2 separate regions of the Homo sapiens genome follow, and region 2 is linked to region 1. The links come from fine-mapping of genetic effects on gene expression. Tissue or cell type: anterior cingulate cortex. Region 1 holds a variant in brackets; the other region holds the start of a gene. All regions are shown on one strand. Distances are between the middles of the regions.

What was found. PIP is the estimated chance that this variant, and not a neighbour inherited with it, causes the effect.
Region 2: CLPSL1 starts here. The variant in region 1 is the best candidate, but not a certain one, in a credible set for the expression of CLPSL1 in anterior cingulate cortex (GTEx, PIP 0.64).

What each region holds. Positions count from the first base shown.
Region 1 is chr6:35,817,185-35,827,855 of GRCh38, reverse strand. LHFPL5 (LHFPL tetraspan subfamily member 5) reads right to left here. Exons shown (of 4, transcript NM_182548.4): 3 at 8,393-8,419; 4 at 3,786-4,874. The coding sequence ends at 8,409. Among named protein-coding and RNA genes, the nearest start is that of LHFPL5, 17 kb to the right of the region's middle. The variant T/C (reference allele first, on the strand shown) is at 8,134.
Region 2 is chr6:35,778,492-35,784,462 of GRCh38, reverse strand. CLPSL1 (colipase like 1) reads right to left here and starts at 3,444. Exons shown (of 3, transcript NM_001010886.5): 1 at 3,254-3,444. The coding sequence starts at 3,352. CLPSL2 (colipase like 2) reads right to left here. Exons shown (of 3, transcript NM_207409.4): 3 at 4,911-5,108. The coding sequence ends at 5,013. RefSeq lists an enhancer at 1,832-2,333.

The DNA.
Region 1 (10,671 bases):
TACCCAAATGACTATAAATCATGCTGCTATAAAGACACATGCACACGTATGTTTATTGCGGCATTATTCACAATAGCAAAGACTTGGAACCAACCCAAATGTCCAACAATGATAGACTGGATTAAGAAAATGTGGCACATATACACCATGGAATACTATGCAGCCATAAAAAATGATGAGTTCATGTCCTTTGTAGGGACATGGATGAAATTGGAAACCATCATTCTCAGTAAACTATCGCAAGAACAAAAAACCAAACACCGCATATTCTCACTCATAGGTGGGAATTGAACAATGAGATCACATGGACACAGGAAGGGGAATATCACACTCTGGGGACTGTGGTGGGGTGGGGGGAGGGGGGAGGGATAGCATTGGGAGATATACCTAATGCTAGATGACACGTTAGTGGGTGCAGCACACCAGCATGGCACATGTATACATATGTAACTAACCTGCACAATGTGCACATGTACCCTAAAACTTAAAGTATAATAATAATTAAAAAAAAAGAAAAAAAAAAAAAAAAGAACTGAGACCCTCCATCCCAACAAACTGTGAAAAACAATCCTGCAAACCACCACTGAGCTTGGAAGTGGATCCAACACAATTGCAGCTTGTGAGAAACCTTGAGGCAAAAACACTTAGCTAAACCTTGTCAGGATTCCTAATCCACAGAAACTGAGATATGTATGTTGTTTTAAGCCACTGCATTCTGGAGTAATTTGTTAAGCAGCAGTAGGTAACAGGATTGTCAGGTCATGAGCACTGAGGATATTCTTCAGGTTCACATTTCACCTATAAATGACTGGCCCTTCCTATTTTGACCATATCTACTCAGGGCTGTCAGTGAAGCTCGAGCACCATAACTGACTCTACAGAACAGCCCAAAGCAGAGAGAGGCAAGCCAGAGTGAGAAAAGAATAAGGTTGACTTCATAAAAGGAGTGCTGACATTACTGATTTTTGTTTGTTTTTTTGTTTTATTTATTTATTTATTTATTTATTTATTTTTGAGACGGAGTCTCGCTCTGTCACCCAGGCTGGAGTGCAGTGGCACAATCTCGGCTCACTGCAACCTCTGCCTCCCAGATTCAAGCAATTGTCCTGCCTCTGCCTCCCGAGTAGCTGAGCAAGGTGTGGGTTATAGGCAGATGCACCTTAAGCCCCTAGCAGCTTCTGCAGACCACTAAAGTTGCCATTTCAGTGAAATATTTTGAGAATAGACTTTTTTTTTTTTGAGACAGAGTCTTGCTTTGTTGCCCAGGCTGGAGTGCAGTGGTGCAATCATGGCTCACTGCAGCTTCAACCTCCCAGGCTCAAGTGATCCTCCCACCTCAGCCTCCCAAGTAGCCGGGATTACAGGCATGCGCCACCATACCCAGCTAATTTTTGTAATTTTTATAGAGATGGGTTTTTGCCATGTTGCCCATGCTAGTCTTGAACTCCTGGCCTCAAGTGATCCTCCCACCTCAGCCTCCCAAAGTGCTGGGATTACAGGCGTGAGCCACTACGCCTGGCCAAGGATAGACTTCTGGAAATTTTTTTTGTACCTCTTCAAAAAGTAAATTATGAGATAAATGATAGAAAAGTCACTAAGCTACAGAATTTGTCAAATTTTGTCATTCATCAAGCTTGCATAAAGTAGATACTGACTGAATTAATTAATTAATTAATTAATTAATTTTTTTTTTTGACACGGAGTTTCACTCTTGCTGCCCAGGCTGGAGAGCAATGGCACGATCTCGGCTCACTGCAACTTCCGCCTCCCAGGTTCAAGCCATTCCCCTGCCTCAGCCTCCCGAGTAGCTGGGAATACAGGCATGTGCCACCACGCCCGGCTAATTTTTTATTTTTAGTAGAAACGGGGTTTCACCATGTTGGTCAGGCTGGTCACAAACTCCCAACCTCAGGTGATCTGCCCACCTTGGCTTCCCAAAGTGCTGGGATTACAGGCGTGAGCCACCGTGCCTGGCCGACTGTGAATTAATTTTATCAACAAAAGAAAATATGAATGTCCAGGCTGGGCAACATGATGATACCCTGTGTCTACAAAAATTAAAGATTAGGCGGATGTGGTGGTACACACCTGTGGTCCTGGCTACTTGGGAAGCTAAAGGCAGGAGGATTGCTTGAGCTGAGGAAGCCGAGGCTTCAGTGAGCCGTTTTCACGCCACTGCACTCAAAACATATATACAGCCTGGGCGTGTTGGCTCACGCCTGTAATCCCAGAACTTTGGGAGGCTGAGGTGGGCGGATCACGAGGTCAGGAGATCAAGACCATCCTGGCTAACACAGTGAAACCCCATCTCTACTAAAAATACAAAAAATTAGCCAGGTGTGGTGGCGGGCGCCTGTAGTCCCAGCTACTTGGGAGGCTGAGGCAGGAGAATGGCATGAACCCGGGAGGCGGAGCTTGCGGTGAGCCAAGATCGCACCACTGCACTCCAGCCTAGGTGACAGAGCGACACTCTGTCTCAAAAAAAAAAAAAAAAAAAAAAATACAAAATTAGCCGGATGTGGTGGCACACGCCTATAATCCCAGCTACTCGGGAGGCTGAGACAGGAGAATCGTTTAAACCTGGGAGGCAGAGGTTGCAGCGAGCCAAGATCGCGCCATTGCACTCCAGCCTGGGCAACAAGAGCAAGATTTCGTCTCAAAAAATATATATAAATATAAATATATATATATACACACAAATGTGATCATTCTCATAAACTAGCTGCCATGGACCAAGTGACAAGATCAAATCCCATTATGGAAGTTCCCACCACCAATTTAACTGTGACAACACTGGGATACTCATTCCTAGTGACTGAGCAGGTTGTCACAGTGCATTGGCCAAACACACAGCTGACAGCCAAAGATAGGAAAACTGTTCCTGTATCACTGATCGGTTGATCAAGCAACAAGATTCATCTGTTCAGCTCTTTACCCACACTTCCCCTATGAGAGAACAGCACACCCAGGTAGTTTCTTTACTAACTAACTGGACAAGGACCAGAAAAAACACCTTTTCCTCAGAATTGTTCACTGCAGACAATCAACAAAATCCTGTTTTTATGCACCACCCCCCAGGGAGGGGACAGCCTAAAGAATCGATTTTGGTCTTGGCTTTTGCTACAATGAACTATTACCTAAATTGAATTCCCCTTTGGAGGCCAACTGAAGGTTCACCATTTAGTAGCTGGTCCTCCGTATCTGTGGGTTCCACTAAGCAGATTCAATCAACCACAGATGTAAAATATTCAGGAAGAAAAGCCAGTAAAGAATAACAATACAGGCCGGGCACGGTGGCTCACACCTGTAATCCCAGCACTTTGGGAAGCCGACACAAGCAGATCAGTTCCAGACCAGCCTGGCCAACATGGTGAAACCCCATATCTACTAAAAATACAAAAATTAGCCAGGCGTGGTGGCGGGCACCTGTAATCCCAGCTACTCGGGAGGCTGAGGCAGGAGAATTGCTTGAACCCGGGAGGCGGAGGTTGCAGTGAGCTGAGATCATGCCACTGCACTCCAGCCTGGGCAACAGGATGAGACTCCGTCTCAAAAATAAATAAATAAACAAATAAATAAATTAGCCAGGCATGGTGGCACATGCCTGTAATCCCAGCTATTCAGGAGGCTGAGACAGGAGAATCTCTTGAACTTGGGAGGCAGAGGTTGCAGTGAGCTGAGATGGCACCTTTGCACTCCAGCCTCGGCAAGAAAGCGAGACTCTGTCTCAAAAATAAATAACAATACAACAACAAATACAAATTAAAAGCCACACAGTACGAGTATTTACATAGCATTTACATTGTATTAGGTATTATAAGTAATCTAGAGATGATTTAAAGTATACAGGAGGATGTGCATAGGTTATATGCAAATACTACGCTATTTTTAGCTGAGGACTTGGGCATCCATGTATTTTGGCATCTGCAGGGGATCCTGGAACCAATCCCCCTATAGATGACTATATGCCAAATCCAAAGTTTTTGAAAAAAAAAAATGTCATCTATTCCTATAACAAATTACTTGAACATAAGTAACACATTTCTGAAGCTGGTAGCCAGTTCTGGTTGAGTCAGTGTGGGCACCATAAGGAAATGTGATATTTGGCTCCCGGGAGGAAAAAAGTCTGCAGAGATTTTAGATCCTATCACCCACTCTTCATAAAACTTCCTGGTGGATGTTAAAGGATTCAAGTTCTGATGGCCCCTCCATTCCTTACCCCCCTCTGAGCAGCAATAAGAAAACAAAATATGAGAAGGGAGAAGCAAAAGACCCCCTACACCTCACCCTAAAAATGACCCAGCACATGTCCAGCCACCTCTTCAGTGCCCTCTTAGAGCTGGTTGGGCATTTGTGTGTGTTTGAGAGAGAGAGAGAGTGTGTGTGTGTGTGTGTGTGTGTGTGTGTATATATATGTGTGTGTGTATGTATGTGTGTGTGTGTGTGTGTGTGTGTGTGTGTGTGTGTATATATATGTGTGTGTGTATGCTATCAGACACAGACCTGGGAGGGAAGGCCCCTAGAGATGGACCCATTTAGCCCTCTCGCTTTACAGAGGAGAGGCTTCAAGAAGGTGAAGCGATTTGCTGCTGTGTGGAACTAAGAAATGGACTTGGATCCCATCCCCAGCAACTGAGCACTCCCTGCACCGCTCAGCCTCTGAATATCTTTGAAGTGGGTCACTGCAGTTCTGCTTCCCCAGAAAGAGTACAGTAGGAGGTCTTGTCTCAGGAGACTGTCCAGTTTTAGTGTTATAATAAAAGGCTTCAGGCTTCAGGCCTATAGTAGCCAGGAACAAGGAAACTTGGAAGAACAAGTTCTTATCTCTGAAGAATTTGATTCCCTAGTTTTCCTGTGTCTGGGAAATAGATGACCTGTGGTATAAGAAAAACAAAAGAACAAAAGATTCCAAGAGTTTAAAATCTGACATTTTAAAAACCAATATAGGCTGGGTGCAGTGGTTCACGCCTGTAATCCCAGCACTTTGGGAGGCCAAGCCGGGTGGATCACTTGAGGTCAGGAGTTCGAGGCCAGCCTGGCCAACATGGTGAAACCCTGTCTCTACTAAAAATACCAAAATTGGGCTCACACCTGTAATCCCAACACTTTGGGAGGCCAAGGCGGGCGGATCACGAGATCAGGAGATCAACACCATCCTGTCCCTCCTAAAAATACAAAAAATTAGCCAGGCGTGGTGGCACGTGCCTGTAGTCCTAGCTACTTGGGAGGCTGAGGCAGGAGGATCACTTGAACCTGGGAGGCAGAGGTTGCAGTGAGCCGAGATCAGACCATTGCACTCCAGCCTGGACGACAGAGCGAGATGCTATCTCAAAATAAATTACAAAAAACAAAACAAAACAAAAAAACTATGTATCAAAAATAAATAATAAACACTTCCCTATGTATGCTCAAATTTTGACTTCAGTTCTACCTAGACATGCAAATTTCCTCATTCATGTGTAAGATAGTACTGATTGTCATTCAAGTAAAAACTTAGGTCTTTTAAAATGTAGTGTGAGGAAAAAAAAGGCAAACAGAGAGGTGTGGTTGCCCTTTGATTCAGTAATGCCACTTGGGATATTATCAACAGAAGCAAAAAGTTTTGTTATCTATGATAGCAACCCTAAATGTCTAATAACCAAGGTCTGGTTTAAAAAATGGTACACCAGGCAGGCGCAGTGGCTCATGCCTGTAATCTCAACACTTTGGGAGGCTAAGGCAGGAGGATGACTTGAACCCAGGAGTTCGAGAACATCCTGGACAACATGACAAAACATCGTTTCTTCAACAAACAAACAAAAAAAACAAAATTATTATAGCTGGGCAGGAGGTATGTGCCTGTAGTCCCAGCTATTCAGGAAGCTAAGGTGGAAGGATGACTTGAGCATCAGGAAGTTGAGGCTTCAATGAGCTGTGATTGTGCCACTGCACTCCAGGCTAGGCAACAGAGCAAGACCCTGTCTCAAAAAAAAAAAAAAAAAAAAAAAAAAAAAAAAAATTGTGGTACACCAGTGCTGTGGAGTTTCTGGCTTTGAAAAACCTAAATTAAAAATATTGCAAAAACATAAAAAAGGGAGCCGAGCACGGTGGCTCATGCCTGTAATCCCAGCACTTCTGGAGGCTGAGGCGGGAGGATCACCTGAGGTCGGGAGTTCGAGACCAGCATGACCAACATGGAGAAACCCCGTCTCTACTAAAAATACAAAATTAGCCGGGTGTGGTGGCGCATGCCTATAATCCCAGCTACTTGGGAGGCTGTGGCAGGAGAATGGCTTGAACCCAGGAGGCGGAGGTTGCCATGAGCCAAGATCATGTCATTGCACTCCAGCCTGGGCAACAAGACTGAAACTCCGTGTCAAGAACACACACACACACACACACACACACACACACACACACACACACAAAGATTATGCTCTAATGCTTTTTTATGCAAAATGTGATTCCTGTTTGAGCAGCCTGTCACCCAAAAACTCATTAGAAATGCAGGGTCTACGGCCCCAGACCCACCCCACCAACTGAATCAGAATCTGCATTTTTTTTTTTTTTTTTGAGACTCAGTCTTGCTCTCTCTCCCAGGCTGGAGTCCAGTGATGGGATCTCAGTTCATGGCAACCGCCGCCTCCTGGGTTCAAGCGATTCTCCTGCCTCAGCCTCCTGAGTAGCTGGGATTACAGGTGCATGCCACCACACCCAGCTAATTTTTGTATTTTTGGTAGAGATGGGGTTTCCCAATGTTGGCCAGGCTGGTCTCTAACTCCTGACCTCAGGTGATCTGCCTGCCTCAGTCTCCCAAAGTGCTGGGATTACAGGCATGAGCCACTGCACCCAGCAGAATCTGCATTTTAACAAGATCCCCAGATGACTGTATGCACGCTGAAGTTTGAGAATCATGCTCTAATAAGTGCAGGAGGTGGAGGTGACAATTTTATGTATGATTATTTTTAAAGTATATGTGGTCAAGGATTGGAAGGCACTTTGCAAAAATAAAAACAGCTTAAATGGAGCTAAACCCTCCTTCCCACAGAAAGCGCCTGGTCGGCTGTAGGTCCTCCAGGCAGCTGTTAGGGAGGCAACACTGTTGTGAGGGTTTCTTTTTCTTTTTTATTTTTTTAATTTTATTTTATTCTATTTTATTTATTTATTTATTTATTTTGAGATGGAGTCTCGCTTTGTCGCCCAAGCTGGAGTGCAGTGGCACGATCTCAGCTCACTGCAAGCTCCGCCTCCTGGGTTCACACCATTCTCCTGCCTCAGCCTCCCAAGTAGCTGGGACTACAGGTGCCCACCACCACACCTGGCTAATTTTTTGTATTTTTAGTAGAGACGGGGTTTCACCATGTTAGCCAGGATGGTCTCGATCTCCTGACCTCGTGATCCGCCCACCTCAGCCTCCCAAAGTGCTGGGATTACAGGCGTGAGTCACCGCGCCCGGTCCTCTTTTTCTTTTTTAAATGCATTCCTGAATGTTCTTGTTAAATCACATTTAACAAATGTTTGGAAACTTAAAAGATAAATGAATATGTTGCGCTTCTTTTTAAACCAGACATTAAAACTGGTTAACTTACTGTTTTTCTTTTTGCCTCGGCTATGAGGAATCAGAGCTAAATTTAATACTCAAGACAGTAATACTATTAGTATAGCTTTTTTGAATATTTGTTTTTCTGTCTATGACTTTTATTTTCTATTTTATTAGGTTTTCTAGTATGTTTCTTACAAATCACTTAAAAATTCTTTCTGAAAATAAGGGTCCAAATTACAATAATGACTTCTAAAAACAGTCTGTTCTTGTGTGCCAGGCTCCATAAAACATGAATTTGTGTTTGAAATTATTTCTTCTTTCCCTGATCTTTTTCCGCCTTTCAAGACACAAGTAAGGCCAGGCGCGTGGGCTCACACCTGTAATCCCAGCACTTTGGGAGGCAGGGGCAGGCAGATCACCTGAGGTCAGGAGATGGAGACCATCCTGGCTAACACGGTGAAACCCCGCTTCTACTAAAAATACAAAAAATTAGCCAGGCATGGTGGCACGCACCTGTAATCCCAGCTACTCGGGAGGCTGAGGCAGGAGAATGGCTTGAACCCAGGAGGTGGAGGTTGCAGTGAGCCGAGATCGCACCATTGCACTCCAGC[T/C]TGGGCAACAAGAGCGAAATTCCATCTCAAAAAAAAAAAAGACACAGGTAAAACTAAAGGCTTCCTGTTTGCTCCCCAGTGAGGGTCTCAGAGGCCAAATAGCTCCTGCCCCAGTGGGGTGTTGGTCCTCTCTCCCCAAGCAGCATCACAGCCTTACAGCCCAGCCCCTGGTGTCCTGATGCCTGAGGATTCAGTAAGGAAGCAGAGAGCCCCAGCCTTTCTAAGGGCACGCAGACCACCCTCCCATAGAATTACTCACCGACCCTTCAGCTGCTTCACACCTCCTCTGTAATGAAGGAGAGAACAGTATACGTTACTACCAAGTCTCGTTTTTAGGATAATTTCCTGCACACTACTCCATCTCCAAACTACATCAGATTCCTCTTACTCTCAAGAAAGCTTGCACTTTTTTGTTCATATCATTTATCAGCTTGTAACTGTATCGCATGATTGTCTCCCTTACCAGACCATAAGCTCCAACTTAGATTTCCCTTAACCACTGTACTTCCAGTGCCTAAAGGCATTGTTAGGCAGCTGAAGCACATTAGCTGTTATTGGTTGGGCAGATGGGTGATATAAAAAATGAATATGGCCCGATGCAGTGGCTCACACCCATAATCCCAGCACTTTGGGAGGCTGAGGAAGGTGGATCACTTGAGGCCAGGAGTTCGAGACCAGTCTGGCCAACAAGGTGAAACCCTGTCTCTACTAAAAATACAAAAAATTAGCCAGGTGTGGTGGCACATGCCTGTAATCCCAACTGTTTGGGAGGCTGAGGCAGGAGAATCGCTTGAAAATGAGAGGCGGAGGTTGCAGTGACCCCAGATCACGCCACTGCACTCCAGCCCGGGTGATGACGGGGCAAGACTTTGTCTCAAAGGAAAAAAAATAGTGAATATGCTGGAAAGACAGAAAGGAGAAAGAACTATCAGATCTGCTACTGTGGCATCAAAAAAAAAAAGGGAGAACTAATTTATTAATCACTTGCAATGTGCAGGCATTGTTAGTGCTTTATATATGCTATGAGATCCTCAGCACTTCCTTTTTTTTTTAATTAATATAATTCACTAACAAGCTGGATGCAGTGGCTCACACCTATAATCCCAACACTTTGGGAGGCTGAGGTGCACACCAGGATTCTGAGACCAGCCTGGTCAACATGGTGGAACCCCGTCTCTACAAAAAAAATTTTTTTAAAAAGCCAAGTGTGGTGGTATGGGCCTGTAGTCCTAGCTATTTGGGAGGCTAATATGGGAGGATCACTTGAGCCCAGGAGGTGAAGGTTGCAGTGAGCTGAGATCATGCCACTGCACTCCAGCCTGGGTGACAGAGCCAGAATCTGTCTCAAAAAAAAAAAAAAAAAAAAAAAAATACATATATATATATATATATATATATATATGGCTTTTAGTATATTCACTAGATTGTGCAACTATCATCACTAATTCTAAAACATTTTCATCACCCCAAAAAGAAACCCTGTGCCCATTAGCAATCACTCTTGTTTCCCCTCCTTCCTAGCCACCTCCTAATCTGCTTTCTGTTTCTATGGATTTGTCTATTTTGAATATTTTATAGAAATTGAATCACAGATATACAAATGGAAACCAGTCTTTTGTGTCTGGTTCCTTTCATTTAACATGTTTTCAAGGTTCATCCACATGGTAGCAATGCTTACTACTTCATTCCTTTTTATGGCTGGATAATATTTCATTGCATGGATATACACATTTTGTTTATCTGTTCATCAGGAGATGGAATATACTAAAAACCACTGAATTGTATTCCATTTTTTGGCTATTATGCTGCCATGAACATTTGTGTATAAGTTTTTGTGTGAACATTTGTTTTTAATTTTCTTGTGTGTACACCCAATAGTGGAATTACTGGGTCATATAGTAACTCTATGATTAACCATTTGAGGAACTGCCAGGCTGCTTTCTGCAGCAGTTGCAAAAGATTTGCATTAGTAGTGAATGAGGGTTCCAATTTCTCCACTTGCTCACCAACACTTGTTATTATTCACCTTTTTTATTATAATCATCTTAGTGGGTGTGAAATTGTATCTCAATGTGGATTTGATTGGCATTTTTACAATGACTAATGATGTTGAGCATCTTTTGGTGTGCTAATTGGCCATTTGTATATCTTCTTTGGAGAAATCTCTATTCAAATCCCTTGCCCATTTTAAGCATTGGGTAGTCTGTCTTTTCATTGTTGAGTTATAGGAGTTCTTAATATATTCTGGATTCTAGATCTTATCCAATTATAATTTGCAAATATTTTCTTCCATTCTGTGGGCTGTCCTTTTACTTTCTTGATGGTGTCTTTTGAAACAAAAAAAAATTTAAATTTTAATGAAAGCTGATTTATCTATTTTTTTCTTTTAAGATTTTTTTTTTTAGATTGAGTCTCGCTCTGTTGCCCAGGCTAGAGTGCAGGGGCACAGTCTTGGCTCACTGCAAGCTCTGCCTCCCAGGTTCACACCATTCTCATGCCTCAGCCTCCTGAGTAGCTGGAACTACAGGTGCCCACCAC
Region 2 (5,971 bases), 41 kb after region 1:
CCTGAAAGACTGGTTCAGGCCATGACGGGAAGTGGGGGTTGGACATGCCTCATTAATACCCCTCCAGCATTAACATTAACAAAGACCTTAAGTCTGATCAGAAACATGTACAATCTATTTTCTATGAAGCCTATTACTGGAGGCTTCATCTGCATGATAAAACCTTGCTCTCCTCAACCCCTTATCTTAACCCAGACATTCCCTTCTGCTGATAATAGCTGTTCAACCAACTGCCAATCAGAATTTGTTTAAATCTACCTATGACCTGGAATGGAAGTCATGCCCCCCACTTCAAGTTGTCCCACCCTTCCAGATCAAACGAATGTAAATCTTACAGGTACTGACTGACATATTATGTCTCCCCAATGTGTATAAAAGCAAGCTATACCCCAAAAAACAAAAAACAAAAAAAAAGCAAGGTGCACCCCAGCCACCTGAGGCTGTATCACAGGTGTGTCCCTAACCTTGGCAAAATAAACTTTCTAAATTGACTGAGACCTGTCTCAGATATTTTGGGTTCACACTAGTAACTGCACTATTGGACACACACAGCTCTAGAGAGGGAAGACAGGGAAGAGATACATAAGTGAAATGATACGGTATCACAGAAAAAACGTTGAGCAAAATAAGTCAGATTTTTTTTTTTTTTTTTTTTTGGAGATAGAGTCTCGCCGTCGCCCAGGCTGGAATGCAGTGGTGCGATCTCGGCTCACTGCAAGCTGTGCCTCCCAGGTTCACGCCATTCTCCTGCCTCAGCCTCCTGAGTAGCTGGGATTACAGGCACCCGCCACCACGCACAGCTAATTTTTTTTGTATTTTTAGTAGAGACAGGGTTTCACTGTGTTAGCCAGGATGGTCTTGATCTCCTGACCTCGTGATCTGCCTGCCTCGGCCTCCCAAAATGCTGGGATTACAGGCATGAGCCACCGCGCCCAGCCCCCCTTTTTTTTTTTGAGACAAAGTCTCACTCTACTGCCCAGGCTGGAGTGCAATGGCACTTTCTTGGCTTAGTTCAACCTCTGCCTCCCGGGTTCAAGCAATTCTCCTGCCTCAGCCTCCCAAGTAGCTGGGATTATAGGCATGTGCCACCACACCCAGCTAATTTTGTATTTTTAGTAGAGATGGGCTTTCACCATGTTGGTCAGGCTGTTCTCGAACTCTTGACGTCAGGTGATCCACTTGCCTCGGCCTTCCAAAGTGTTAGGATTACAGGCGTGAGCCACTGCGCCTGGCCCAAATTTTTTTTTAAAAGTACATACTGTGTGATTTCATCATACAAAGTTCAAAACTAATCTATAATAATGGAAGTCAGGAGACAGTTGCCTTTGGTGCTATTGACTAGGAGAGTAAGAGTGAGGCTTTTGGGGTAATGAAAATGTCCTATATCTTGTTCTGACGGTAGTGATGAGGGGGTCTGCATAGGTTCGAATCCATTGATTTCCATGTAAACTCAAGATCTGAGCACCTAGTAAGGTGTGATTTTTACCACATATGTTATATACATAACAATAAGTAATATTTATATTATATATGTATAATCCTATTATGTACGATTATGTGCTATAAAGAAAATAAGGCAGGAAAGGAGGATTGGCTATAGCCGCCTCCCGGCCTCCCTGCTTCCATCCTTGCCAGTGACCTCCCCCAGGTACCCCCTCACCATCCCCACTCTCACTTCCACCTCCCCAACCTCCTCAAGTCAGTTCTTCCCAGAATAGCTAGAGGAGTCTTTTTTAAAAGATAATTCCCACAATGCCATTCTCTGGATTCAAAGCCATCACTGGGGCTCTGAATCCACACCTGGCCTGGCCCCAGGGCATTTGCGCTTGCTGGCCCTCTGCCCAGAGCACCCTGTCCTGCACTCTTTGCCCGGCTGCCTCCCCCTCCTGCCTCAGGCTGAAGACTTCCTGGACACCAGCAGAGCAGTCCCCATCACCTGGTTGTACTTTGTTCACAACACTTATGACTCTCTGAAATCATCTTATTTATATGTTTAAAAATAATTTATTTCCCCCGCTAGCAACCTCAGCTCTGGGACATGGATCTTCTGCTCTCACGTTCACTGCTATATTTCTTAGCCCCCTTGGACTAAAGTCCTTACACATTGCAGGTGCTGAATGCATAACTGTTGAATAAATGAGAATATTGTAACTGTGTTCCATTTATCTCTCTGAGCTCATCTCCCATGATTTCCACTCTCTCTTACTCCTCTTTGCTATTCCTTGAATATGCCAGCACATTTCCGCCCCCAGACCTTTGCCCTGGCTGTTCCCTCCACCTTGAATGCTCTTCTCCCAGAGACCCCCCTGCTTTGCCGGTTAGGAAGGACTTCCCTCCCTTTAGGTCTTTGCTAAAATTTCACATTCTTAGTAAACTCTTCCCTGAGCACCCCATTTAAAACTGCAAACCCTGGCCAGGTGCGGTGGCTTACGCCTGTAATCCTAGCACTTTGGGAGGCCAAGGCGGGTGGATTGCTTGAGGTCAGGAGTTCAAGACCAGCCTGACCAATACGGTGAAACCCTGTCTCTACTAAAAATACAGAAAAAAAAATTAGCTGGGCGTGGCAGTGGGTGCCTGTAATCTCAGCTACTCGGGAGGCTGAGGCAGGGGAATCGCTTGAACTCAGGAGGCTAAGTTTGCAGTGAGCCGAGATTGCCCCACTGCACTCCAGCCTGGGTGACAAAGCAAGACTCTGTCCCAAAAAAAAGAAAAAGAAAAAGAAAAAAAAAAAAAACACCTGCAAACCCTTCTCACACCACCACTCCCACAGCTCGATTCTTATTTTCCCTTTCCTTGCTTATCACCTGAGATAGATGCTATTATTAATAGCATCTATTGTAATGTTTTACTTCTTTGCCTCACACACTAGAGTGACAGCTCTACAAGGGCAAGGATTTTTATCTTTCTTGCTCACAGCCCTATCACTAAATGTAGAAAAATAATTTACATATAGTAGGTGCTCAATAAAAATGTGTTGCATGAGTGAATATCTGTCTCCCTTACCACATGTGCGCATGGGCAGGGGGGCTCTCTCACATTCACCTCTGTGGCAGCAGCACCTGGCACTGCCCTGGCACAGCTTCCAGGACCAGGTTGTTCTCTCTTTCCTCCGAGACATCTTCCACCCAACACTCCCTGCTGCCCCCACTTCTGGCCTTCTCCCACACTAGCCCCCATGCCCGCTCACCTCCCCAAATAGTACAGGCCTTAGGACAGTGGAGGGGGAGGTGACTGCACTCTCCAGCTTTCTTACCAAAAGGTTGTATTTTGTTGGAGAAAGTGAGCCCCTGGTGAGGAGGAAGAGAAAGAAGAAGAGAAGGAACAGCAGCAGCAGCCATTGGGGTAGCATCATGGCCCACAGGTCGTGGTGGCTTTTCTAGGGTCCAGCGAAATATCCTGCACGCCGACCATGTGGGTGTCCTCCCAGCTGTGGGAACACCATGTAAAACCAGCACCCAACCCCGTCAGAATTTTCCCATCCTGCACAATACTCAGGCTAGGCCAATCAGCAAATTCCACCACAATAATTAGTTCAGGCAGACTAAGCCAATCCAATCAGAACCGATCTTAGGATGTTTGCTGAAAATTGTGGAACAGAGATGTTTTCTTTCTCTGAAAGGCACAGTATTGATGTACATGGTGGATTTGTGGTTAAGAGCCTGGCCTCTGGGGCAGGATTGTCTGGGTTCAAGTCTCAGTTCCAACCCTTACTTTAGGAGCCTCGATACCCTGTTTGTAAAATAGGGATAATTATAACACCTACTATAGCCCTGTTGTGACAAAAAGATGAGTCAATACAGTTAAGAAAGCACTTTGGGCCAGGCGCAGTGGCTCATGCTTGTAATCCCAGCACTTTGGGAGGCTGAGGCAGGAGGATCACTTGAGCCCAGGAGTTTGAGACCAGCCAGGGCAATACAGTGAGGCCCTGTCTCTATTAAAAAAAAAAAAAGAAAAAGAAAAAGAAAAAAAATTGGCCGGGCATGGTGTCACACACCTGTAGTCCCAGTTACTTGGGAGGCTGACGTGGGAGGATCTTTTGAGCCCAGGGGGTTGAGGCTGCAGTACGCTGCGATCGAGCCACTGCACTCCAGCCTGGGTGCTGTCTTAAATTTTTTAATTAAATGAAAAAGAAAGCACTTTGCACAGTGTCTGGCACATAGGAAGTGCTCAATAAATCCTACCTGTTATTAGGTGACACCTGGAATGTTTGTGACTACTGGGAAGGAATTCAGCCTGAGAGCTGCTGGCTCTGGCCCTACCTAAGGGTTGCCTGACCTCTGGACTTTCATTTCCCATCACCAGTAAATCCCCTCCTCACCTAGACCAATTTGAGTTGGTTTTTAAGATACTTGCAGCAGAAAGAGGCCTCACTGCTACCCCAATGATATGACCTAGGGCAAGTCATGTCGCTTCTCTGGGCCTCAGTTTCTTTGTCCATGCAGTGAACCGACAATACCTGAGAGAGCGGAGGCATCCATGCACCAGGTCCCTTTCCCACCACAGGCATTTCTGCATTTATACTTTGCACATTCTCACCAACTCTCTAATGATCTCTACCCTTTTGTGCCCCACAACCCGCCCCGCAAAACATTCAGATACCTCCACCTAGTCTCTCCCTACCACACACCCCTCCATAGGCACCCCAACATACACTCTCCAGGTACATTCCTCAATCCCGTCTCTCCCACACAGCCCTCCAACCAGAGAATCAGCCCTTTCCCAGACCCAGCCCCTGCTCCACCACACCCTCCCTGTGCCATTCCCTTCCTGCAGTTCTACCCTGACCTCCGGACAGGGCCAAATCCCATTAGAAGCTCATTCATGCCTCCAGTCTCCCCTTTTGCCTGCCCCCTGGACTGGTACAATCTCCACCAGGTCCCCTCGCCCAGAAAGTACAGACAGAGGCCAAGGACAGGAAGTGACTTTAATGTCTCAGGAGCTGGATTTGGAGCAAGTTGGTGGCAACCAGGGCCTATGGCCCCAAGGGAGCAGTGACCAGCCTGCATCTTCCTCTAAATCATATGGCACCGGCGGGAACACATCAAGTCCTTGGATATGCACGTCAAGCCCATCCGGCAAGGGCAGATGATGTTGGTAGCTCCCTTGGTCTGCAGGGAGTGGGTATGAGAATCGGGAGTCACCAGGATGCAGGAAGGATGGGGACTTAAACTTCTTGGGGACCAGAACCAAGAGTACCAGGCCTGGAGTAAGACAGACCTGGGCTGTCTCTACAGCTTATAACTGCGTGACCTTCAGCAAGTCAATGAACCTCTCCAGCTCGGTTTCCTCATCTGTCAAATGGGGACAGTAATAGTAACCCCCCTCATAGGGTTGTTGTGAGGACTAAATGAGATAGAGCAGATCAAGTGGTGATAATAAAAAGACCCTTTAGGCCATGCGCGGTGGCTCACCCCTGTAATCCCAGCGCTTTGGAAGGCCGAGGCGGGTGGATCACCTGAGGTCAGGAGTTTGAGACTAGCCTGGCCAACATGGTCATGGACTAATAATATAAAAATTAGCACATGCCTGTAATCCCAGCTACTCCAGAGGCTGAGGCAGAGGAATTGCTTGAACCCAGGAGGTGGAGGTTGCAGTGGGCCAAGATCACGCCATTGCACTCCAGCCTGGGCAACAAGAGCAAAACTCTGTCTCAAAAAATAAAAAAAATAAAAACCCTCTAGCCACTTCAGCTATAGGGTCAGGCCATGGTAGGGGCCCTGCTGCTTCCTTAGGGCATTGGCAACTCCCCACACAGGGACATAGAGGCTGGGTCCATCCATCCTAGAAAGGTTTGGGCCCAGGGCCAGGTGGGCAGGAACAGGGCGTACTGAGCATTCTGCTCCCTGCATTCCTAAAAGCGAGTGACAACCATGCTGGACTGCACACTCTCCTTGCCAGGACCACATAATCTTCCCAACAGCCTGGTGGGGTAGGTACTTTAGCCTCTCCTTGTAGATGAGGAAACTAAGGC